Linked DNA regions of Homo sapiens: regions 1 and 2 are each linked to region 3. The links come from fine-mapping of genetic effects on gene expression. A gene starts in region 3. Each other region holds a variant in brackets. All regions are shown on one strand. Distances are between the middles of the regions. Region 1 overlaps KIAA0319L (KIAA0319 like). Region 2 overlaps KIAA0319L (KIAA0319 like). Region 3 holds the start of KIAA0319L (KIAA0319 like).

What was found. PIP is the estimated chance that this variant, and not a neighbour inherited with it, causes the effect.
Region 1: its variant is fine-mapped to the expression of KIAA0319L in whole blood (TOPMed, PIP above 0.99).
Region 2: its variant is fine-mapped to the expression of KIAA0319L in whole blood (TOPMed, PIP above 0.99).

The regions. Positions count from the first base shown.
Region 1 is chr1:35,484,402-35,492,389 of GRCh38, forward strand. All of the region lies in intron 3 of KIAA0319L (KIAA0319 like), which reads right to left. Among named protein-coding and RNA genes, the nearest start is that of KIAA0319L, 69 kb to the right of the region's middle. The variant T/C (reference allele first, on the strand shown) is at 4,151.
Region 2 is chr1:35,433,845-35,441,832 of GRCh38, forward strand. It overlaps KIAA0319L (KIAA0319 like), which reads right to left. Exons shown (of 21, transcript NM_024874.5): 20 at 7,203-7,294; 21 at 1-1,237. The coding sequence ends at 1,050. Among named protein-coding and RNA genes, the nearest start is that of ZMYM4-AS1, 72 kb to the left of the region's middle. The variant A/C (reference allele first, on the strand shown) is at 4,485.
Region 3 is chr1:35,553,197-35,561,184 of GRCh38, forward strand. KIAA0319L (KIAA0319 like) reads right to left here and starts at 4,207. Exons shown (of 21, transcript NM_024874.5): 1 at 4,011-4,207; 2 at 1,154-1,323. The coding sequence starts at 1,295. It overlaps NCDN (neurochondrin), which reads left to right and starts at 4,603. Exons shown (of 7, transcript NM_014284.3): 1 at 4,603-5,027; 2 at 5,911-6,051; 3 at 7,130-7,988. The coding sequence starts at 4,995. RefSeq lists enhancers at 1,881-2,836, 3,637-4,364, 4,365-5,091, 4,381-4,440, 5,819-6,544 and 2 more and silencers at 3,901-4,000, 4,011-4,150, 5,222-5,431.

The DNA of each region.
Region 1 (7,988 bases), 69 kb before region 3:
TATCTCTAAAATAAATAAATAATAAAACTTCAATTCCCAATTATTCATTGCTAATATAGAAACACAAGTGATTTCTGTGTATTGCCCTTATATCCTGCAATCTTGCTAACTTTACTTAATAGTTCCAGTGGCTTTTATGCAGATTCTTTAGAATTTTCTAGAAATAATCCAATCATCTGTGAATAAAGGCAGTTTTGCTTCTTCATTTCCAATCTCTATTTCTTTCATTTCTTTTTCTTGCATTATAATTGGCTAGGACCTCTACTACAATATTGACCAAATGTGGTTAGAGCCACTTCCCTATTTGTTAAGTAACTGTCATCTCATTTTCCTTTAAACCTTTGAACACGATTTAAGTTTTTAATCATATATATATATATATATATATATATATATATATATATATTTTTTTTTTTATTATACTCTAAGTTTTAGGGTACATGTGCACATTGTGCAGGTTAGTTACATATGTATACATGTGCCATGCTGGTGCGCTGCACCCACTAATGTGTCATCTAGCATTAGGTATATCTCCCAATGCTATCCCTCCCCCCTCCCCCGACCCCACCACAGTCCCCAGAGTGTGATATTCCCCTTCCCATATTTTTTTAACAGCTATTTTGAAGTCTCTGCTAAATCTAATAGCTGGGCCTATTCAGAAATCATTTCTATTAATGACTTTTTTTTCCCTGAGCATGGGTTACACCTTCCTGATTTTTCCTTGCATGTCTTATAATATCTGGTTGAAAACTAGAGGCTTCAGATAATCTACTGGAGTAGCTATCGATTGTTTTATTTACCTGATGGGCTATTTATTGTTTTTAATAACTTGCCTATACTTAAACTGCAAAATCTAATTCTCCCATAGTATGTTGTGACTGATGCTCTGCTCGGTTTTTTTTTCTTGTTTTTATTTTAGCCTGGGTTTCTAGGGCAGCCTATGCCTGCATCATTTAGTAGTCAGACAATGATCTGGGCAGGGGTTGCTCATAGACCTCAAACCCATAAAGCTTTGCCATCTGCCAATCTATCTGTATATTGCCTGAGGAATGCATTCAAAGTTACAGCCAGTTCTCAAGTCCCCTTTAATTTTTACTTTTTATTGGGTTCCCTTGGGTCCCTCCTGCACATGCAGGTAACTTCCCTATCAGCCAGAGATATGTGGAGAGCTTATCGTAGCCCTTCTATGGCTCTCTTATTTTCAAGATCTTCCCATTTAGTTTCTGGCAGGTCCACCATCTACTCCAACAGGCACTGCAACCTTCAGCTAGCAAAGCTGTGGATTCTCTCCATTCATTCTCAACCAAGTTTGCCACTTTTAGTTGGCAAAGCTGTGAGTTTTCACCTGTCCCACATTAAGTCTACCCCCTCTGGCAGAAAATTTGCTAGTGTTATTTATTTATTTTTTTTCCTTTTCAATTGAGACGGGGTCTCACTATGTTGAGTTCCAGGCTGGTTGGAACTCCCGAGGCTCAAGCAGTCCTCCTACCTCAGCCTCCCTGTAGCTGAAATTACAGGCATGTGCCACTGCACTCTGGCTCCTTAAGATATTAGTTTTCATGTTCAGCCACACACTGGTAAAACTACAATTCTTGTCACCAGAGCTGAGTAATGGAGGTAAGGACAGATGGGAAACATTCCAAGAAGACCACAGACTTCCACTGTACCTACTCAAAGTATTACCAGCCTTTTAAGAATAAATTCTTAGGCTGGGGTGTGGTGGCTCAAGCCAGCGCTTTGAGATGCCGAGGCAGGAGGATCACCTGAGCCCACGAGTTTTTCAAGAACCTAGGCAACATAGTGAGACCCCGTGTCTACAAAAAATATAAAAAGTTAGCTGGACGTGGTGGTGCGCACTTGTAATCCCAGCTACTTGGGAGGCTGAGGTGGGAGGATGGCTCATGCCAGGGAAGTCAAGGCTGCAGTGAGCCATGATCACACCAACCTGGATGACAGAGTAAGACCCTGTCTCAAGAAAAAAAAAAAAAAAAAAAAAAGAATAAGTTTTTCTCAATTTGTTTCTGCTTCTATTTTATTTCTAGATATGTTAAAAATATTTGGTTTTAACAATTTTGCCCAGTTTTATACTTGTTTTTTACACGAAAACTACAGATCCCTTCTTGCTGCCATTTTGTAAGCCCTCTTGTTTCTATTTTCCCATTTTTAACATTTCTTTTCTGAAATTCTTCATCTGTTTACTCATTGAAACTATTTTCTGGCCCGATACAGTAGCTCACACCTGTAATCCTAGCATACTGGGAGGCCAAGGTGGGAGGATTGCTCAAGGCCAGAAGTTCAAGATCAGCCTGCACAACATAGCGAGACCCCATTTCTACAAAAAAAAAAAAAAAAAATTATAATTAGCTGGGAGTGGTGGCACACCCCTGTAGGCCTAGCTACATAGGAAGCTGGGTTGGCAGGATCGCTTGAGCCCACGAGTTTGAGGCTGCAGTAAGCCAAGATAGCACTACTGCACTCCAGCCTGGGCAACAGAATGAGACCCAAAAAAACAAAAACAAAACAAACATTTTCCTTTAATTATCTGAACATACATATGATAGCTACTTTGAAGTCTGACTACTATCTCCAACATCTGAGTCAACTTGGAGCCACCTTCTATTGACTGCCTTTTTTTCCCTGCGTATGGATCACCCTTTCCTGTTCCTGTGCATGTCTGGTAATTTTTGGTTTAACGTTGGACATTCTGATACATGTAGTGACTCTGGATTCTACTATATTTTCCTTGGGATTACTGGGGGAGGTTTTCCTAGTAGACAAATAACCTCCCTGGACTGAACTGTAGACTTTGCTCCTTACAGTGTTCAACAACTGATATCTCTGTGTAGTTCTCACAACTTTTTTTTTTTTTTAAGACAGTCTTGCTCTGTTGCTCAGGCTGGAGTACAACAGTGTGATCTTCTCAGCTCACTGCAACCTCTGCCTCCTGGCTTCAAGTGATTCTCGTGCCTCAGCCTCCCTAGTAGCTGGAATTAAAGGCATGCACCACCACACCGAGCTAATTTTTGTATTTTTAGTAGAGACGGGGTTTCGCCATGTTGGCCAGGCTGGTCTCTAACTCCTGGCCTCAAGTGATCCACCTGCCTTGGCCTCCCAAAGTGCTGGCGTAAGGCACCACGCCCAGCCTGGCCACTACAGGTCTGCCTGTGTAACTGATAATTGACCAAGAATTTGGCCAGAGATTTTACTCAGATTTGGGGCCTGTTCTCATTGTACTGTCTTTGTTTCTGGGGATTCCTCCCTAACTTTTCAGCCTTAAGATTACGTCCACTGACACCTCAAGTCCATAAGACTTCATATATCTGCCACCTGGTTCCCCATGGTTGGAGAATGCATTCAATTTTAAAAAGCAGCAAACTTACGAAGTTCACCTTGTGTAGATTCTGTCTTTCAAAGACAGAACTCTAATCTCTGCCTCCCTAATCTCTGCCTGCTTTTTCAGCAGGCCTCATGGAGTCTGCCCATGCAGGTGTAGTTTAGAGGTACATCCAGGGATTTTAGCAGAGTTCACAGTCAGGTTATGGGGGTCACCCTCTTCTGTGGTTTTCTCACTTTCAAGCCCTCCTGCTAAATTTTCAGATGCTTTTTCTATCATGAACTCTGTTTTTGCCACCATAAGAAAGTAAGGCTGGAGTTTTCCACTGCCACTTTCCTCTGCTGTGGGAGTTGTTGAATGCCCTCAGGAAAAAATTTTTTTAAGCTGCAAATTCACAATTCTTTTCACTCCCAGTTGCCATTTTTCAAAAGTAAGCGCTCCTCTAGCTTCTATCTGCTTTTGGAACCTTTCCAGTATCTTTTAATACATTTGTTTACAGATTTTCTAATATTATCTGTGGGAAGGTTTCAGAGACTACTTCACTCTGCCACCATTACTGGAAACTCCTCCTGTGGGATGGATTTTAAAATATTAAGAATCTAATATTTATGGAGCTGTAATAGATCTGGGGTTTGGGGAAGAGTCTGAGATGACACCCATGTTTCTAGCCTGAGTGAGGGACTGACTACAGTAGTATCAAAAACGAAATAGACTACAGAAGAGCAACTTTAAGGAAATTACAGGAAGTTATGTTTTAGACAAATTGAAGCTAAAATACCTCTGGGAAATTGAAACAGAAACTAAGATTTGGAATCA[T/C]GCTCCTAAAGCCATGGGAGTGGATGAACTACGACAGGAAGAACATGTAAATAAAAGAAATAGTAATCAAAGAATAGAACATTTAGGAATACAAAGGCTGTAAGCTGATAAAAGGACCAACAAAATTGACTAAGAAGGAATCATCAGGAAGAAGGAAAAGGACCAGGAATGTGTGGTCCCCAAAGAAAGAAGGGACAATTGCAACCAGTATGAAATAATGCAGATGGGGCCAATCAAATAAAGACTGAAAAGAATACACTGCAATCAGCAACTGTGAAGTCACTGGTGACCCTGGCAAGAGTAGCTTCAGTGGAAACCAAATTCCACATGGCTGAGGATTAGATGTAAGTGAATAAAGAAGAGACAGCAAGTGCAGACTACCTTTGATATTTCTAGATAAAAAGGAAGAGAGACAAACGAATGGTAGCTAAAGATGCAAGGAGACAAGATCAAGGACATATTTGCAAGTATCAAGTTTGAACAATGAGCATCAAGTTCTGAGACTGAAAACTTAATGATAGAGTTGAGTATTATGCAAATATTTAGGAGAGCATCTGGGTCCAAACTTGGGAAGTAAATATCAGAGAAGGCTTCAAAAAGAAGTAAAGCCTAGGAAGACTAAGTAGTAGTTAGGTAGGTGAATGCCACAAGGTAAAAAAACAAAACAAAAACAAAAAAAAACATGGTGGACTTTCTGTTCCAGTCAAGAAGAAGTAACAGCAAGAAGATTTATCCTTCTGAAAAAAATTTAAAAACCAGACCAAATATATTAAACAATGGCGTTCAAGACACCAGACATCAGGTGATAAAAAACAGTGATCCCTAAGAAATGAAAAACAAGTAAGATCAACCCTATGATTGCCCCAGCTTACTGTCTAGAAAATGTTTTTGAGCCATGGCACAGGAAGAAGAAATCCAAGCACAGACCAGCAGTCTTTCTGAGTTGAAGAGCTGAACTGGAAGTCTGGGAAAGAAGAGTGCTATACAGAGACAGAACTCTGAAAATTTGAAGGAGACCCCCTTAAGTACTCAAGGGAATACTGATAATCAGATGTATATGGAGAAACTACAGAGGGTCAGGGAAAAACTAACCTGTATTCTTTGTTTTGTTTCTTTGGGTTTTTTTTTTTTTTGAGATGGAGTCTCACTCTGTCACCCAGGCTGGGGTGCAGTGGTGCAATCTCCACTCACTGTAACCTCTGCCTCCCAGGTTCAAGCGATTCTCCTGCCTCAGCCTCCCAAATAGCTGAGATTACAGGCGCCTGCCACTGTGCCCGGCTAATTTTTGTATTTTGAGTAGAGAAAGGGTTTCACCATGTTGGCCAGGTTGGTCTCGAACTCCTGACTTTAAGTGATCTGCCCGCCTCAGCCTCCCAAACTGCTGGATTACAGGCATGAGCCACCATGCCTGGCTTTTGTTTGTTTCTGAGACAGGGTCTCACTCTATCACCCAGGCTGGAGTGCCATGACGCGATCTTGGCTCACTGCAGCCTCGACCTCCCAGGCTGAAGCAATCCTCCTACCTCAGCCCCCCAAGTAGCTTTTTGTACTTTTTACAGAGATGAGGTTTTGCCATGTTGCCTAGGCTGCCCTGTAGTTCTCTTGATTACAGAGAAAAGTACTCAAGTTTAGACGGCTAAGAAATAGTACCTATTCCACAAAGCTAGAATGGAAAACTTTGTAATTCATAGGGCATCAGTTAAAGTACTAATAAAAGTCCTACTTTAGTAGGATAGAAAAATTAACCCTAGACTAAATGCAGCTCCGGACTCACATGACAAAGCTTAAAAGCAAGACTCAAAAGTATCACTGTTTGCAAATAATTTAACCACAGTCCAGAACAAAGCTCAAGAATATTCATAGTGATACAAAAATATCCAACACCCCAGTAGGTAAAATTTACAATGTCTAGCATTTAATCTGAAATAACCAGACATGCAAAGAAGCTGGAAAATAAATACTATAATGAGAAAAAAAATGTAAATCAATTAAAACTGATCCAGAAATAACAGAGATGACAGAACTGGTAGATAGGGATATTAAAATAAGTATTATGATTATATTTCTATGTTTAAGAAGTTATAGGAAAGGTTATAAGACATAAAAAAGACCTCATATCAAACTTTTAATATAAATATTACAATGTTTGATATTAAAGAAAATACACTTGATATGTTTTGGCTCTGTGTCCCCACCCAAATCTCATGTTGAATTGTAATTTCCAATGTTGGGGAAGGGACATAGTAGGAGGTGACTGGATCATGAAGGTGGATTTCCCCTTCCTGTTCTCATGATAGTGAGTGAGTTCTCATGAGATCTGATGGTTTAAAAGTGTGTGGCACTTCCCACTTGACTCTCTCTCTTTCCTGCATGTGAAGATTGTGCTGCTTCCCCTTTGCCTTCCACCATGATTGTAAGTTTCCTGAGGCTTCCCAGCCATGCTTCCTGTACAGTCTGCAGAACTGTGAGTCAATTAAACCTCTTTTCTTCATCAATTACCCAGTCTCACATAGTTCTTTATAGCAATGTGAGAACAGACTAATGCAATACTGTAGGAATTTAATGGCAGATTAAACAATGCAGAAGAAAAGATTAGTAACCTTAAAGAATTTCAATAGAAACTACTCAAAATGAAACACAGAGACGAAAAAAGACTGAAAATAAACGAATGGGGATCAGCAAACTGTGAAATAAATTCAATTGGTCCCAAAGGGAGAGGGACAGAAAAATATTTGAATAATTGTCAATAATTTCCCAAATTTGAAGAAAACTATAAACCCACATTCTAATCCAGATTAAAGTTCAACAAGCCCCAAGCACATGAAACATAAAATTACGCCATAGAATAACATAATCAAATCGCTTAAAACAGTGGTAAGGAGAAAATTATATAAGCAGCCAGAGAAAAAAGAAACATGATATATGTGGAACAAAGATAAAAACTAGAGCAGATATCTCAACTGAAACAATGCAAGCTAGAAGACATTGACACAGTATCTCGAAAGTACTGAAAGCAAAAAAATAAACCTGTCAACTTGGATTTGTTTAAACAGGGAAAATATTAAATGTAATATTTTAAAAAAAGGATTAGCGCAGAAATCAATAAAATAGAAAACAGAAAAACAATAGAGAAAAACGAATAAAACCAAACATGGTTCTTTGAGAAACATTAACTAGTCTAATCAGGAGAAATGAGACAGCAAGAGCCAGAGCCAGAGCAAGAGACAAGAAGACACAAATGATCAATATGAAGAATGAGAGAGACAATGTAACTAAAGGTTCTACAGATGTTAAAAGGACAGTAAAAGACTATAATGAACTTTATGCAAATAAATTTGACTAATGGCATGAAATGCATAAATTCCTTGAAAGACACAATCTGCCAAAACTCACTCAAGAAGAAAGAGACAGCCTACATAGCAATGTATCTATCACATAAATTGAATTTCTAGTTTAAAACTTTTCACAAAGAAAATTCGAAGTACAGATGGTTCACTGGAGAATTATATTTAACATTTAAGGAATAAATAATACCAATTCTACACAAACCCTCCAGAAAACTGAAGAAAAGGAAAAACTCCTCAACTCATTCTATGAGGCCAGCCAATAAACAGATGTAAAAATTCATGACAAAAATTTGATAAATCAAATATAAAAATACATCAAAATAATATCATGACCAAGCTGGGCGCGGAGGCTCACGTCTGTAATCCCAGCACTTTGGGAAGCTGAGGCAGGTGGATCACAAGGTCAGGAGTTCAAGACCAGCCTGACCAATATGGTGAAACCCCGTCTCTACTAAAAATATAAAAATTAGCTGGGTGTGGTGGCATGCGCC
Region 2 (7,988 bases), 120 kb before region 3:
CAGTCCATCTGGGGCTATCTCCTCTGGGGACAGGGAGCGGTGGCCTAAGCCCCGAAGCAGCAGGTGCCGGTCAGATGGAGAGGAGGGAGGCCGTCTGTCCAGCCTGGCTGCTCTGACAAGGGCCCTGGCAGCGAGAGAGGCCACCCGCCATCCCTGACACAGTCAATCCTCCCTAATCTCGGGCCGGATGGGAGAAGGGAGTGGGGCTCCAGTGTTAAGGGGGGGCCAGATATCATTTCTTTTTTTTTTTTTTTTTTTTTGACGGAGTCTTGCTCTGTCACTCAGGCTGGAGTGCAGTGGCACGATCTTGGCTCACTGCAGCCTCCACCTCCCAGGTTTAAGCAATTCTCCTGCCTCAGCCTCCCGAGTAGCTGGGATTACAGGCATACGCCACCAAACCCGGCTAATTTTTTTTTTTATTTTTAGTAGAGATGGGGTTTCACCGTGTTAGCCAGGGTGGTCTTGATCTCCTGACCTCATGATCCGCCCGCCTCGGCCTCCCAAAGTGCTGGGATTACAGGCGTGAGCCACCGCGCCCGGCCATCATTTCTATGCTACCATCTCAGCATCTGTGGTGAGGGGAGGGGTGCCACTTCCTCTTTGCCCAGCGAGAGGGCGTACTCTACCCCAGAGAGGGAAACACCATGCCCACAGTGCTTGGTTTTGCACTCAGGTGTGCGGGCAGCACAGCAGGCCTCACCTTGCAGCACTCTGGGCACAATGACACTGTCCACTGGGGAGCTGCAGAGCTTAGCAGCTGGCTGGGTCTGCCCTCGGGGGAGGGGAGGAGTTTGCAAAAAAAGGAGGCCCTGAGGTGAGGATATCTGGGGGCCCACCAGACAGGTTTAAAGAGGAAACCTCTTCATTCACAGCTTCGTTGAGGGGTTCCTGGAGGACGTCTCTGGATTCAAGTCCCAGGGGTTCTGGTTGGGACTGTCAGGGCGAAATGACCAGCAGATGCTGGGACAGCAGCTGCCCGCAGACTCGGGAGGTAGGAGGACTGGCCGGGCAGTGTGCTGGGCCCTGCCCTGAGGAGACAGACCAGGTGGCTACAGGATCTCCTCCCGCGGGCTCCTGGCCTTCAGAGGGGTCTGCCCGTTGGGTACAGAGCCATTCTGACCATGCAGGAGTTTGCCCTTCTCTCGGTCTGGCCATGTAAAGATGGCATCATCGCTGTCCAGCTCTGACTCGGAGTGCATCAGGCTGCTACTTAGCAAAAGGCCTTTCTGTTTGATGCCTGCAGGGAAAACAAGGAATCCAGCATCAGGAGACTGGCCTCAAGGCTGGAGCCACCCCCACACCTTACCCCAGCCTGAGGAGCCAAGGAACAGGGCAAGTCACAGGCTCCTCTCCAGGCTGGGAGGTGCAGATGGGAAGGAAGCTTCCCTAGTCCTTCTCCCGGGCCCAACTGGTTGGAACAGTCCACTAAGGGGTGTCACAGAGTACGGATGAGAGCACACCTGGGGTCTCCTGCTGGTTCTTCATCTCCAGTATCCATGAGCTTTGGTTCAGGCCACTCAGTGACATTCTCTTTTCTTTACCTTTCAAATTTGGAATATTTTATCACCTCCCTCTATGGGTGGAATGACATGGTAGGCAGGAAAGCACAAAGAACTCAGGCTCTGGAGAATGAGCTTTTAGCTGCACCCTAGGTCAGCAAGGCCGCTGAGTGCTGGCACAGCAGGAGTGTGCAGTTTCAGTCCATGTAGACATTTGCTCTGTGGGCTCTTGTCTGCTGTGGCTTCACTGGATGCTAGGGTGGCAGAGTAGGTGCACACTTGGACAGGTCTCTCCTGCTGGGAGAGCCTGACTGAAATGGGGACTCTCAGAAGCAGTCCCAAGCAGCCAAATCACAGAACACACAAAGCAAGAACCGTATGAAGCACCTGGGGTCGAAGAAGACACCTGCGATTCTGCAAGCCATGGCAGTCCCTTCACTACTTATCCCTATAGATGCCGAGCGGCCACAGACATGAAATGTGGTCTGATAAGAAGAGTTCCAACAGCAAAGATGGCTGCCCTCTGGCTGGTGCAAAAACTCCAGAGAAAACAAACAGCAGGCTGAGATAGCAGGACTAGAGTGGGAGCTGCCAACAGGTGGCACCCCCTCAGCAGTGTTCTGGGTCCTGGGAATGCCCACGCCCAGGAGCTAACCTCCCTCCTTTCTAAAAAAGGTAACCAGTCAGGTGAGGGGTGGACATCTTAGGGAGAGGGGAGAGCCCTCTCCAGCACCACAATCTCATCATCCAATAATCATTCTCCCTTCTCCGGGGAGAAGGATCCAGATCTCCCTCACATACTGAAAGTGCCTTGAGAGGATTCCCAGCCATTCAGCCCTTCCTGGCCACACCTGACTTAAGGGTGGCAGTGCCCCGAGCTCTCCAGGCTGAGCGCATCCAGACCCTGATGCGCCTGCCATTCAGGACCACATGCGCCCAAGGACCTTGTCCATGTACAGCTGTGCCTGTGCCACATGCTCTGGGGCTTGGGCAGGGAGCTTCCTCACCCGCGTTGGTGTCAGGGTTACAGTTCTGGGTCTTGACTGAACCTCTCCTACTGAGTCTTCGGGCAGCGGAGCAGCAGGGCCACAGAAGAACACTGACCGCCAGGACATCTCCAGTGTGGTGGGGACAGTGGAAAGGGCCCTGGCAAGGGCCCAGGTCCTCCAAAGGCCCTGCCTCACCCCTTGAAATACCCACCTGTTCACAGCTGCCTCCTTCCCAAAGCCCCTCTGGCTATAGCAGTGAGGACAGGAGCCTAGGTTCAACCTAATATACTTCAATAGAAAGTTTTAGAAAAAAAATCAATAGAAAACAAAAACAACAACAAAAAACAACAGCAACAAGAGAAAACAAAGCCATAGCTGCTGAATGTAAAGGGGGCCTCCTGAGGGGGGCAGCCCTACACTTACCAGGTGGCACTGCTCTCCTTCCTCAGTTACTGTTCATCCTCAGCCTAAACTGGCTCCTGGCAAACTGTCCGTCCAGACTCCCGCGCACACACATCCTCTTTCCCCCCAACGGACCCACTCAGTTTACCCTTCTTCCAGCTAAACTTCTTCAGTTCCATACCTGACACCATATGGTCTTGAATCTCATTCTCCTCGTCCTCCTAGTGACTCTACTCTAGGCTGGACCTGCTAACCCACTGAGCCCAGAACAAGAACCAGTGCTTCCGGCCTGCTCAGACCCACACCGAACCTGAGCGGGCTCTCCCAGCTCCCTTCGGTAGACACTGCCCACAAGAGACCAGCCCTGCTGCCCTCACCTGGTCGCACGTTGTTGGTTTTGGTCACCTAGATGCCACTGGAACACCCCATGGCTCTCCCCTCTCCCTAAGATGTCCGATGTGCTGAGCTCAGGCTCCCATCCAATCTCACCTCTGCAGCGCGGCACTTCTCCGGGCCATCACCGCCCGTTTCTCCCCTCCTGCCTCAGAAGAGGCATCTGAACTCCATGCTCCCTTTCTCTCCTCTCTTCCCTTCTCCCTCCTTCCTCCTCAGTCAGGAAGCACCTCTCCAACGCACCACTCCTCTACCTGCATTCGACATTGCCACCCACAGATCTGTTCATGAGCCCTTCTCTGAGGAAGAGGAGGCCCTTGCCCTCTGCCTGCCATCCTGCTTCTCTAGCTTTCACTGCTCAGCTTCTAAAAGGATTTTTAAATATTCAGGGCCTTCATCTCCTCACTGCGCTTTCTAAATCACCTGCGCTTTCACTTCCACTGTCACTCCCCACTCTACTGCAGCTCTCTGATGGGCCAGGAGCTTCTCTGGTGCTATCAATTCTGATTCTTTGGCCTTTGCAGCAGCAAACACCGACGGCTGTCCCCTAATGAATCCCCTCCTCCCTCCTGGATGGTCATTCTTGGGGTCCTCAACCCTAGGCCTCTTCTTTTGTCCTTCAACATTCCCCCATAAGGGATGTGACCCTTTGTGGTGCTGATCCTCACCAGCAGATGGGAGATTCCTATTTCTACAGTTCCATGTCTGACTCTTCTGCTGAGTTCCATTTAATTCATCTTCTCTTACCCAGTCACTGCATCAGAGGTTCTGATTCTGTCAACAGCACTATCATTCTCCATCTCTCGGTTGGAAGTCAGCCCTGACCTTGCCAGACCTAGCTATAACCCACTGACACCACGCTGTGTGAATCACTGTCAGCTCCTCCTTGGACCAAAAATCTCCTTGCTGGTCTCCACACTTGTAGCCACTCCCCTTCAATTATTATATGTTGTCACCAGACTGATTTTCCTAAACCAGCTTATCCAAGACTTTGCTTCCCAGCATCACCAGGATAAATGTTTAACTCTGCAGGCTGATAGTCAAACTTTCACAATTTGGGCCTTGTCAATCTTTCATTCTCATTCCCTCAACTCCATTCATAACTGTCTTGCACCAAACACTTGATCTCCACCATTTCTTCTCCAGTCTCTCCCATCTCAGGGATACTACCACCACCCAACCCACAGAGGCTCAGTGCTGA[A/C]GCTGGGAGCCATCCTTCCTTTCTCCCTTCTCCCACACGCCTTGGCCAGCAGACCACTAACCTCATCAAGTCTTCCTCAAAAATGTATCTAGAATCTATCTGCCTCTCAACCCCAAGGACATTCTATCTAACTTCCTTTCAGCTAGCCTTTCCCCTCCAACCCCTGCATCTGTCAGCCACAGTTATCTTTTTTTTTTTTTTTTTTTTTTTTTTGAGACAGAGTCTGGCTTTATTGCCCAGGTTGGAGTGATCTCAGTTCACTGAAACCTTCACACCCCCAGGTTCTAGCAATTCTCCTGCCTTGGCCTCTCGAGTAGCTGGGATTACAGGCACCCACCACCACGCCCAGCTACACAGTTGTCTTTTTAAAATATAAACCAAGACCGGGTGCCATGGCTCACACCTATAATCCCAGCACTTTAGGAGACCAAGGCAGGCAGATCACTTAAGCCCAGGAGTTCAAGAACAGCCTAGGCAACATGATGAAACCCCGTCTCTACCAAAAATACAAAACAACAACAACAACAACAAAAAAACCTGGGGATGGTGGCGCATGCCTGTGGTCCCAGCTACTTAGGAAGCTGAGGTGGAAGGATCACCTGAGCCCAGGAGGTCAAGACTGCAGTGGGCCTTGATCGCACCACTGCACTCCTGCCTGGGTGATAAGAGTGAGACTCTGTCTCAAATAATAATAAATGTAAACCAAATCCCACCATTCATCCCCTTAAAAAGCTATCAGTGGCTCCCCATTGTACTCAAGAGAAGTCCTCAGCAGGGACCCTGCTCATCCATTGAGCCTTGGGTCACTCACCCCTTACTCTGTGGGAAGGTGAACCTGTCCATCATGTCACCTTCTTCTACCTCCTCAAATGCTCTCTGCTCCTTCTAGCAGCTGGGTCTGCACCAGTTTTGTTCCTTTGCCTGGAATGCTATTTCCTGCAGCTTTATCTGGCTAGCTCCCACTTATCCAGGTCTCAGCTTAAGTGTTTTTCTTCATAAAGGCCTTTTATGAGCATATTTTATGTATTTGTGAGTTTGCTTAATGTCTGTCTGACATAAGCTACACAAGAGTGAAGTCTGTCCGTTTGATTCACCACAATATAAGCAGTGTCTGGCACAGGGCCTGGCACATAGTGGTCCCGCTCCATATCCACAGATGAATGAGACAGCCCCTGCCCTCAGGGATTTCACTGATGGGTGGGGAGACAGGCAAACATAACTAATCATGAGACAGCGAGAGAAATGCCGACCCAGGCATGTGAGAGAAAGGTGAGCACAACTTGAGGAGGTTAAGGGAGGGATAAGAAAGAGCTTTCTAGGGCTGGGTATGGTGGTGCATGCCTGTAGTCCCAGCTGCTTTGGGAGGCTGAAGCAGGAGGACCACTTGAGCTCAGGAGCTGGAGGTTGCAGTGAGCTATGACTATACCACTGCACTCCAGCCTGGGTGACAGAGCAAGACCTTGTCGCCACATTTTTAAAAAAGAAAGAGATTACTGGATGAACCAGAAGAACTTGTTTAGAAAAGAGGGAGATCAGCAAAGAGAAAGATTCCAGAAAAGCAAACTGATGTAAGCTCACAAAGGCCACATCTACCAGACCAAAAGTTCTAGCTTTTTGTGCTAGAAATAGTAAGTCATTGAAGAATGTCAGGGGGTGAAAAACATGATCAGAGTAACATGATAAAAACCTTGGCTGCAGTGTGAGGGGTGGGTTTTGCACATTTCACCTCCAGGCCCTCATTCTCAATATTCCTGGGTGAAATGCCCCGCCCGCCCTCACTGCTCTGGTTTCCTGGGCTCATTTCAAGCCCCACCACCTCCAGTCTCCACCTTGACAGTGTTGGTGGATCGAGCTGCTTGGTGCAGAGTCCAGACTGCTGTGAGCCTGTTCTCTTCTGCTACTGTGTGTCTTTTCTCCCTCACTAGACTGAGAGCACAGCCTGTGTCTGATGACTCCCTATACCCCCATAGCCTCTCCCTAACACAAAGCTTTAAGCATGAAAAGTGTTTAATAAATGCTTTATATAAAAATAGTTCTACTTGCAGAGTGTTTAGGAATCGCTTTATAGAGTCTAGCTCTCATAAACCAATGATACCTGTCCCATGGCATCCATGATGAGTGAAACCCTCGCCAGGTGACCCAGCCCAGCGGAGGAAGGAAGGCCTACTACCTGCCCTGATCTCCCAGTGCCATCACTCAAAGTCATCTTACTGTTTGTGCAAGGAAATGCCCTCCTATCTGCCCTAAGACACTGACAGAAGCTGAGGACTTGCCAAATGATAAAGATAGGAAGACAGGAGAACAAGGCTGGCTGAAAGGTGGTCAGCTGGCAGACACGGGCCTGGGTCTCATCTCTGCCCATAAAGCACAGACTGGTCAGCAGTAAGAGACAAGTCCAAGGTCCCTGACCCTGACTACCTGGGGCAGTTGGAAAAGCGGAACTCCAGGTGGGAAACATGAGGAGAATGCCCAGGCAAAGGAAAACAACAGGCCCAGCACCCCCGCCAAGCGGAAGTAGCACGCGAAGTGGGTCCTGGAGGCATTTTGTCCAGTGCAGCTCAGGGCAAATCTGACCCTCAGTCTTCATCAGGCAAAAGGGAACAAAATGCTTTGCAAGCACAGTGGGCTGTTAGTGACACACTCAGGAGGGGCTAGTGACAGCAGCCTTCCACAGAGAGAGTGCACAGACCTAGAAGCTCTGGCACCCAGGGCCCCTACCTGCTCGGGAGGTTGGCTTCAGCTCCAGGCTTTCCTGATCCGTGGCATCCAGGATCTTGTACTTGCTTTTCCTCTTGGGTTTTCCTTTTTGCCTAAAAAACACAACCCCCACCCCTGCTCAGGAAAGAGGTTCTCTGGGAGGATGAGGATGAGAGCCAGATGTGCATGCAGGGCCCTATTTTGGTGGGGCACCTACTGAGAGGGGTGTCCTCTCCTCACTTCTCAGCCAGGAAAGGTGGCAACTGTGATTTGTTCCTCAAATGTTCCTCAGCAATTCTGGAGAAGGGCAAGGGAGCTATGACCACCTTGGCACGGACTCACCATCCCACAGGGGCAATGAAGGACAGATTGGTTAAAAACGTAAAGAAAACAAAATCCTCTGCTTGAAGGGTGTGGGAGGAGACAGGCATTACACTAACAAAGTTGGTAATGGTGGTTGTCTTAGACTGGTGGGAATTTTTAAAAATTCCTTTAGTTCTAAGTTTTATAAGAGGTTATACTGAAAGTTGAATCTCAGCTCTGTCACTATCAACTGGTCCTCAGACAGTGATGTACCTTTCCTGAGCCTAAGTTTTTTTATCTGTAAAATGGGAAAAGGTTATGTGTCTTAAAAATGATATTACCTATAAAAATATTATGGCACACAGTATACACAGAAATAATATTATTAATAATGAAAACATAAAATAAATGTAACCATTCCATCTTAGAAGACTCAATAGGAAGACTCAAATGAAAAAACACAGGACGCCTGAGCCTGGCTAGCCTAAAGTGCATGTGTGGAAA
Region 3 (7,988 bases):
CTCCAGCCTGGGTGACAAGACCCCATCTCTTTTTTTTAAAGAAGTGATTTTTCCCTATTCTGATGGTGCTAAATCAATTACTTATTTAATTCTAATGATCTTATATAAAATGTTGACCTGAAATAGTCAGCTGTCCCAGCAAAGCATCATCTGGGGTAAAAAAAAAAAAAAACCATGTAGATCAGCTTTCTGTCAAGTACAACTTCCACTGCTATAATTATGCAATCATCAACCATCACTGCAAGACAACAAAAACCCCAAAGCTGATGTTACTGAAATTGCTAAATACAATAATTACTAGGGTCTCAAAATCATGACCACCAATTCCTTTAGGAAAGCAACAGAAATCTTTGTAATTATAAGGGAAAAAGGCTGATTAGTTATCCCAGATGGTGGTCTCTACAGCAGAAGGTTTTTGGTCACTGGCCAGAATGGCAGCATACACAGAAATCTTTCTCATATTGCTGTTTTCTCACACTCATACTATGAAAGCACAATATCAACAAAAGAACTTGAAAGAAAGAAAGAAAGAAAGAAAGAAAGAAAGGGCATTCTCCTTTGAAATTTAGCCTTCTTGGCACTGATTCCTGGCAAGAGGCTTTACCCTGGTGAAATAATCTCTAGGAGGAAAGCATAGTCTAAAAAATCTATCAACATAGCCCCTCTCTATGGAAAAAGTAAGGAACGCATTTTTCCCATAAGTGTAGATTCCTTTAGGAAAGGAAAGGAAGCTCAAGACCAGCCTGGGCAAATAGCAAGACTAAGCACCCATGCTGAGTGCTGTGCTACATGCTTTAATTATACTATCCCTCAAATCAAACCATGAGGTAGATAATAACCCTTCCTCAAAGATAATAGGTAATTTGCTCAAGGTTTTATAGTCATTAAGTGGAAATACCCAGTTGACTTTTATCAAGTCTTAAAACGGTTGTGCCAATTCTCCCTTATGAAAAAGAATCCAATTTAAACTCTGGTTCCAAAACAAAACAAATAAATAAACCCAACAGACCTCAGTCACCAAAAGGATGACCATTTCTGTCAATTAGCAGATTGTTTTTTCTGCCTCCTAATAGTCCTTAAAATGAACTGAGGGACTCACATAAAATGCCCTTTTCTAAAAAAAAAAATCTTAAATCTATAAAGAAAATAGTACCTGTTGACAACCACAGAACGCTGAAGCAAAAGCAAGTATAAAACAGGTACAGGCTTCTCAACCACTTCGCAGATGTCTGCCAATAATATCCTGATAAAATCCAGGAAGCAGGATTTGGCTTGACTCCCAGCCTCTTCTCCATGGCCCTCCAGACAGGCAGAACCAGTACACTAGAAGGACAGAAAGAGAAGAAATTACATGCCGAGTAATTAATAATTAATTCCTGGAAATGTGGAATGCTAGAAAATATGACAGATTAGGGGAAAGAAAAATTTCAAGTTTGTCTTTAACGGCTCAACCCTGCCTATAAATTTTAAACCTGGGCTTTGAGGTAGCCTATAATTATCAGAATAACAACACAGCAAGGGATATCAAATGAATCCACTGAAAACTGAAACTTTATATTCCTTTTTTTTTTTTTAATCTAACAGTAAATCACCTATGTGGTAGAATGGAAAGAGTACCAGCCCGCAGACAAGAAGATCTCTGAGTTTTAGTTGCAGTTCTGCTACTAACAGCTTTGTGACTTTGACCAAACACACTTTCTTACTTTTGAGGAGAAGAGGTTGCACCCTCAGAGGTAAAGTAACCTGAGGGTTATGTCTGGCCCAGTATTTTTTAAATTTCTGAATGCAAATGTCTTTAGGCAGGGCATGCACTCTCCAGTCTGCTACTGTCTCCGCCCACCACTATTATCATGAAAATCTATTCAATTTACACCTCAATGCTACCCACCCCAATCCCTGCATTCAACAGATACTTACGTCAGGCACTATGCTGGCTACTCCAGAATCTAGGGGCTGGATTATTTAGGTCTCTTCCAGCAGAAAAACTCATTTACCATAAATTTCTCCCCTCATATAAAACTTTGCTATATTGTCTAAATTAGTACGTAAATATTGGCAACATTATGAGGGTTGACTGAGTTCTGAAGAAGCAATTCAAAAACTTCTGTCCAACTATGTACCTGTCATCTACATCCAGCAAACGACACAGGCTGCCAACCCCTAACTCCTATCCACGGCCAGCATACAGGGAGATCAGCATTGCCTGGGCTGGATACCAATACTGACTAATACCAAGAAACAGCCACAGACATACACACAGCTGCAAAACTAAGGTGCAGCCCACCCAAGAAAAGGCTTTTGCAGAACCACATGCATCTGAAGGACTTCATCGTTCTCATTCACTTCCATCCATTCCTATTTCTAGTTGTTTTGTAGTTGTATTTCAGGGAGCAGGGGGCAGAAAGGAGGTGTGTGGGCCAGAGACATGTTCAAGAGATTATGAAATGGAGCCTAAGTTAGAAAGTACATCCAGCAATTTCTCTAGCCTCCCAAGAGGGAACGAGTGAGTATGCATGTGTGCATGTATGGGTGTGTATGAATCTTACCCAACACATTTCTGCCTACCACAAAAGGATTTAAAACTCAAGGTGACTCAACAGCTGTCATCAATAGCCTGACAGGTGGGTGGGAGAAGCAGAAAAGAAATGAATAGCTTTTGAAAAATGGAGTAATAAACACCACTGGACTAACAAGCTGATTAGAAGTGCCATGTCTAATAAATCTTGCGTCTAAGAGAAAGGCAGAGTTAATTTCATTTGAACTCCTAACCAGTCATTCCTCTGAAACCTATAATTGCCTAAGGGCACAAATCACTGCTAGGGTCCAGTTAAAGGCTTGCTGACCAAACGCAAGAACAACAACACATCACCAAGATCCGAATAGTTTGTTACTGAATCAAAGGGTAACAACCCAGGGAGAGAACACACACCCCCACAATACTTGACAAATGAAAATCTAGAGAAGCTCACAATAGTTCTGGCATTTAGGGCGTTACAAGTACACCCAAAATAAAAGCACTCTCTGTTGCAGCAGCTGTTCAGACAGAGCAGGGGGTAATGTTTACTTAATACTTCAGGTTGATGGGGGATGTATCACAGTTCAGTCTGTCAACTACATACGTGGAACTCCATTTATGTACACAGCGATAAGATATGTTTGAACAACGATGGAGCACGTCTGAAACAATCTATTCAGTTGGTATGAGTAATCGAGAATAAAGCTCTTTTTTAAAAAGTCTCAGATATTTGGGAAAGTTACAGAACAGACTGCCATGAATAGCTTTGCTTATATTTGCAGACACTGTTTTCCAAATAGCTGGAAAAATGAACAGATTGTTCTGGGAGGTCGTCTTTCCAATTTGTTCCTAGTTTTCAGTCTGTTAATCACAGGAGAGAGCACAAGGAGAGTCAGCTAATGCTCTTCACTAACTGCAACTACTGTCAGTTGGACACAACCACTATGAGACCAGAAGCCAAAGAGTTCCTGGAATCCCGCCAGAGGTTATCAATTTTGACTTCCTTCATTTCACCTTTGTGCTCACTGCAGCCACTACAGGACCCTCTGTGGGGCATAATTTTCAAAATCGTGGATGAGGCAGGTTTCACATTATAATGGACACATCGTGCTCAACCCCATCCCCTCTTCATTCTGCACCAACTTTCTATCTCGGTGGAGAGACCAAACATCAGAGACAGCAACTAAAGACTAGGCTGCAGAGGTCGAAGGTGGAAGAAGGACGGCAGCGCCCCGAACCCCGGCTGTCTGCCTGGCTCTCAGGGGATGGAGGGAGCTGCATGACTAGGCCCAGGCCCGAGAGAAGCGGGGTTCAGCCTGGGACCCAAGCTGCGCACCTGCAAGGACAGAAGCAGCTGGCTGCCCTGGCCGAGCCAGGGGCGCCACCTCCGGACCCAACATCCGGCCAGCGCAGCCGCTGACATCGCCCGTCCCGCTTGCCCCTCCCCTGAGCCCATGGTCCTCGGCCTGGCAGCCAGCCGCCCCCGGCCACCTACCGGGGCTCAGGGCCACATAGCGGGGCCCCGGCTCTCGGCGGCCTCCGCCTCCTCCTGGTCCATGGGCTCGGGGACCCCCAACCTTCGCTCCCCTCACCCGGAGGAGGAGGAGGAAGAGGAAGAAGGTAGTGCGGGCTCCCCACCCGGACAGCTACCTCTCGCCTCAGCCTCCCTGGACAGCGACGGCGGCCGGAAACACCGCCTCCTCCCACCTCCCCGGGACCGACCCGGAAACACACTCTCCATGCTAACCAAGCCCTCCCGCCCCTCCCCCGGGAAGGGCAATGCCGGCCGCGAGACCAAGGGGGAGGAGGGGCAGTGCTGGGCGGGTAAAACTACGCACAAGCGAAGGAATCTGGGCCCCCAGCCTCTCGCCGCCCGCTCTCCAGAGGCAGTCTGCACCTTGCCTCCTTCGCTCGAGCCCCAGCCCCCAGACTCGGGCAATACCCACAAGCAAGATGGCGGCAACGGCGGCACCCCCTACTGCTTAGCACCCTGACTTGCCATTGGCCAGAGCCCGGAGTGAAGCAGCCGCGGATTCGTCAAGAGCGGTGCGGGGGTGGGGGTGGAGCTGCAGCAGCCTGGAGCCAGGAGTGGGCAACGCGGCGTGAGCAGCGGCCCGAGGCTCCCGGAGCATCGCGCTGGGAGAAGACTTCGCCGCTCGGGGCCGCAGCCTGGTGAGCTCAGCCCCCTTCGGGCCCTCCCCTGCATCCCAGCCGGGGCCTCTCCGAGCCGGCGCTGATCGATGCCGACACACCCCGGGGACCCTATCGCGACTCCATCGCGCCATATCGCGACACCATCGTGCCCTGTCGAGACTCCATTTTGTCACAGCCCTTTTCAATATATATCTTTTTTTTTTTTAATTTGCCCTGTCATCTTTGGGGGCTGTCTCCCATGTCGTGATTTTGACGTGATCTCTCCGTGACATCACCGCGCCATCGTGAAGTGTGATCTCATCGCCGCCCTGTCGTGACTTCATCAATGTCGTGTTGTGACCTGGCTGCGGCGGGACAGGTGGTGACCGCCAGGAACCCTCCTCCCCTTCTCATCTCCCCATCTCAGCAGCCCTGCTTCGATTATCCGGCTTTTGGATTCTCCGTTGTCCTGGGAACTATCCGGGACCCCCTCTTGCTTCTCCAGCCCCTGCCGGCATCCACAGGCTGGTAGCGGGACGGGGAGGGCGAGAAGAGGGAGCGCAAGGGGTTAATTCTGCTGCTGCCGCCGCCGCTGCTGCTGCTGCTGCAGCCTCTACCCGAGGGAGGGAAAGGAGAGGAGGCAAGGAGCCTGCGGGGGCGACTGAGAGCCCTGGCTGGAGGGGTGGGGTCCCCAAAGGGGCCTCCAAGCCTTCCCTGTTGAGCGTCTTGTATTCTCACTTCTGAAGCGTATCTCTGCCTCTGAAGAAGGGAGGGGAAAGGAAGCCTGGGGTGTCCTTTTCTCCCATGTCAGCCTGAGTCCGGATAATCGAACTTCACCCATGTATGTCTCCATTTCTCCCTGTCTGTCCTCACCACTCACTCCCTCTGTGTCCCTGTGGAGGGAGATAAAACCCAGCCTCCGGTGCCAGGGGGACAGCTGAGCAGTGGGGCCAGCTCCCGCCCACCCCCAGGAGACTGGTGAGGAGAGCTGTCCGGCTGAGCAGCAGCATGCATGGTCCTTCTTTCCCGCTTTCTGGAGGTGACCTTGGACCAGGGTCCCTTCTTTATCCCTAAGGATTTGCAGATCCAGCCCCTTAAAGGGGCTTCTGGGGGGAGGTCAGTCCTGAGGAGTCCACCCCTCCAGATTCTCTCCTCCCCTCCCTCTGTGCTAATCCCTCCCTCCCTCCATCCTCCACTCTCACCCCCACCCCACCCCCGTCCCTCCTCTGCAGAGGGATGCTCAGTCCCTCTTGTGTTCACAGTTGGGCAAGGCGAGCATCATGGCCTCGGATTGCGAGCCAGCTCTGAACCAGGCAGAGGGCCGAAACCCCACCCTGGAGCGCTACCTGGGAGCCCTCCGTGAGGCCAAGAATGACAGCGAGCAGTTTGCAGCCCTGCTGCTAGTAAGGAACTGGCTGAAAATTGGGAGGTGGGAAGGGCTGGGTGGTTGGGCCCCCAAGGAATGGGGTCAGTGAGTCCCCAAGGATATGTACGTAGTGCTAGCAACCCTGGAGGCACCAACGAAGGCCCAAGACCCCTACCTTTGTGCTCTTTTTTGCTCCCCCTGAGAATGGGGGCAAAGAGGAGAATGGGACTGAATAAGGCTGTGGCACTAGGGGCTGCCTGGGTCTGTTTTCTGGGGCGTCCCAGAGCAGATGGAAGCTGACTCATAGGGTAACAGCAGCAGGTAGTAACTAGTGCAGAGTACTTGAGGGCTGGGGATGGTTGTTCTGGGCCTGGAGAGAGTAGCAGGGCTGGAAGTGGCTGGGGAGGGGTCCTAGGGGAAGGCCAGGATGGCAGTAGGTAGGTTAAGGAATGGGAGCTAGTTTGGGGCTTAGCCTTTTTGGAGGAACCCAAGCTGGGGACAGCAGAGCAGAAGCTGCAGTGCTAGGAAGGGGGGGTTGTGTGTGGGGGGTGAAGGGAGGAGGGAGTACAGCCGCTGCTTGTTTGCCATGGCAACAAGGAGAAGGCTCTGGAGTCAAGGGCTCACACTGCAGCAGAGGAGGTGTTTAGGTGAAATGTAAGGGGAAATGTTTTGACAGGCGGAGCGGCGAGACACAGGAGCCATTTCCCCTGAGAAGGTGGCAGAAATGGATCAGGGACTTCTCTGGAGGGAGCAATTAAGGAAGGACTTTAAATCCTTGGGAGATCTTAAAACATTGAGTTCTAAGCCCCTTCCATCCCAGGTTGTGGGCATTTAGACATCAGGAAGAACTTCTCAACTGGCCAGGTGTTGAAATGCTCAAATGAATGGTTGAGGAAGACTAGACCTCACTTCCATGGGACAGTCACAGATGAGAGGGATCCCAGAGGTCACATTTATCTGCCTCTAAGGAGAAAAAAGGAGCTGGATGAAATGACCTCAGATGAGTCCTGTTGCATAACCTCATCTTGCTAGTCCTCAGTGCCCCAGGATGCAGGAGAGGGACAGTCTTTCCCACTTCTTCCTTTCATCCTGATGATAGCACATACCCCCTATAGGTGACCAAGGCAGTCAAAGCAGGTGACATAGATGCCAAAACTCGGCGGCGGATCTTCGATGCTGTCGGCTTCACCTTCCCCAATCGTCTCCTGACCACCAAGGAGGCGCCGGATGGCTGCCCTGACCATGTTCTGCGGGCTTTGGGTGTGGCCCTGCTGGCCTGCTTCTGCAGTGACCCTGAACTGGCCGCCCATCCCCAAGTCCTGAACAAGATTCCCATTCTTAGCACCTTCCTCACAGCCCGGGGGGACCCGGACGATGCTGCCCGCCGCTCCATGATTGATGACACCTACCAGTGCCTGACGGCTGTAGCAGGCACACCCAGAGGGCCTCGGCACCTCATTGCTGGTGGCACCGTGTCTGCCCTATGCCAGGCATACCTGGGGCACGGCTATGGCTTTGACCAGGCCCTGGCACTCCTGGTGGGGCTGCTGGCTGCTGCCGAGACACAGTGCTGGAAGGAGGCGGAGCCCGACCTGCTGGCCGTGTTGCGGGGCCTCAGTGAGGATTTCCAGAAAGCTGAGGATGCCAGCAAGTTTGAGCTCTGCCAGCTGCTGCCCCTCTTTTTGCCCCCGACAACCGTGCCCCCTGAATGCTACCGGGATCTGCAGGCCGGGCTGGCACGCATCCTGGGAAGCAAGCTGAGCTCCTGGCAGCGCAACCCTGCACTGAAGCTGGCAGCCCGCCTGGCACACGCCTGCGGCTCCGACTGGATCCCGGCGGGCAGCTCCGGGAGCAAGTTCCTGGCCCTGCTGGTGAATCTGGCGTGCGTGGAAGTGCGGCTGGCACTGGAGGAGACGGGCACGGAGGTGAAAGAGGATGTGGTGACCGCCTGCTATGCCCTCATGGAGTTGGGGA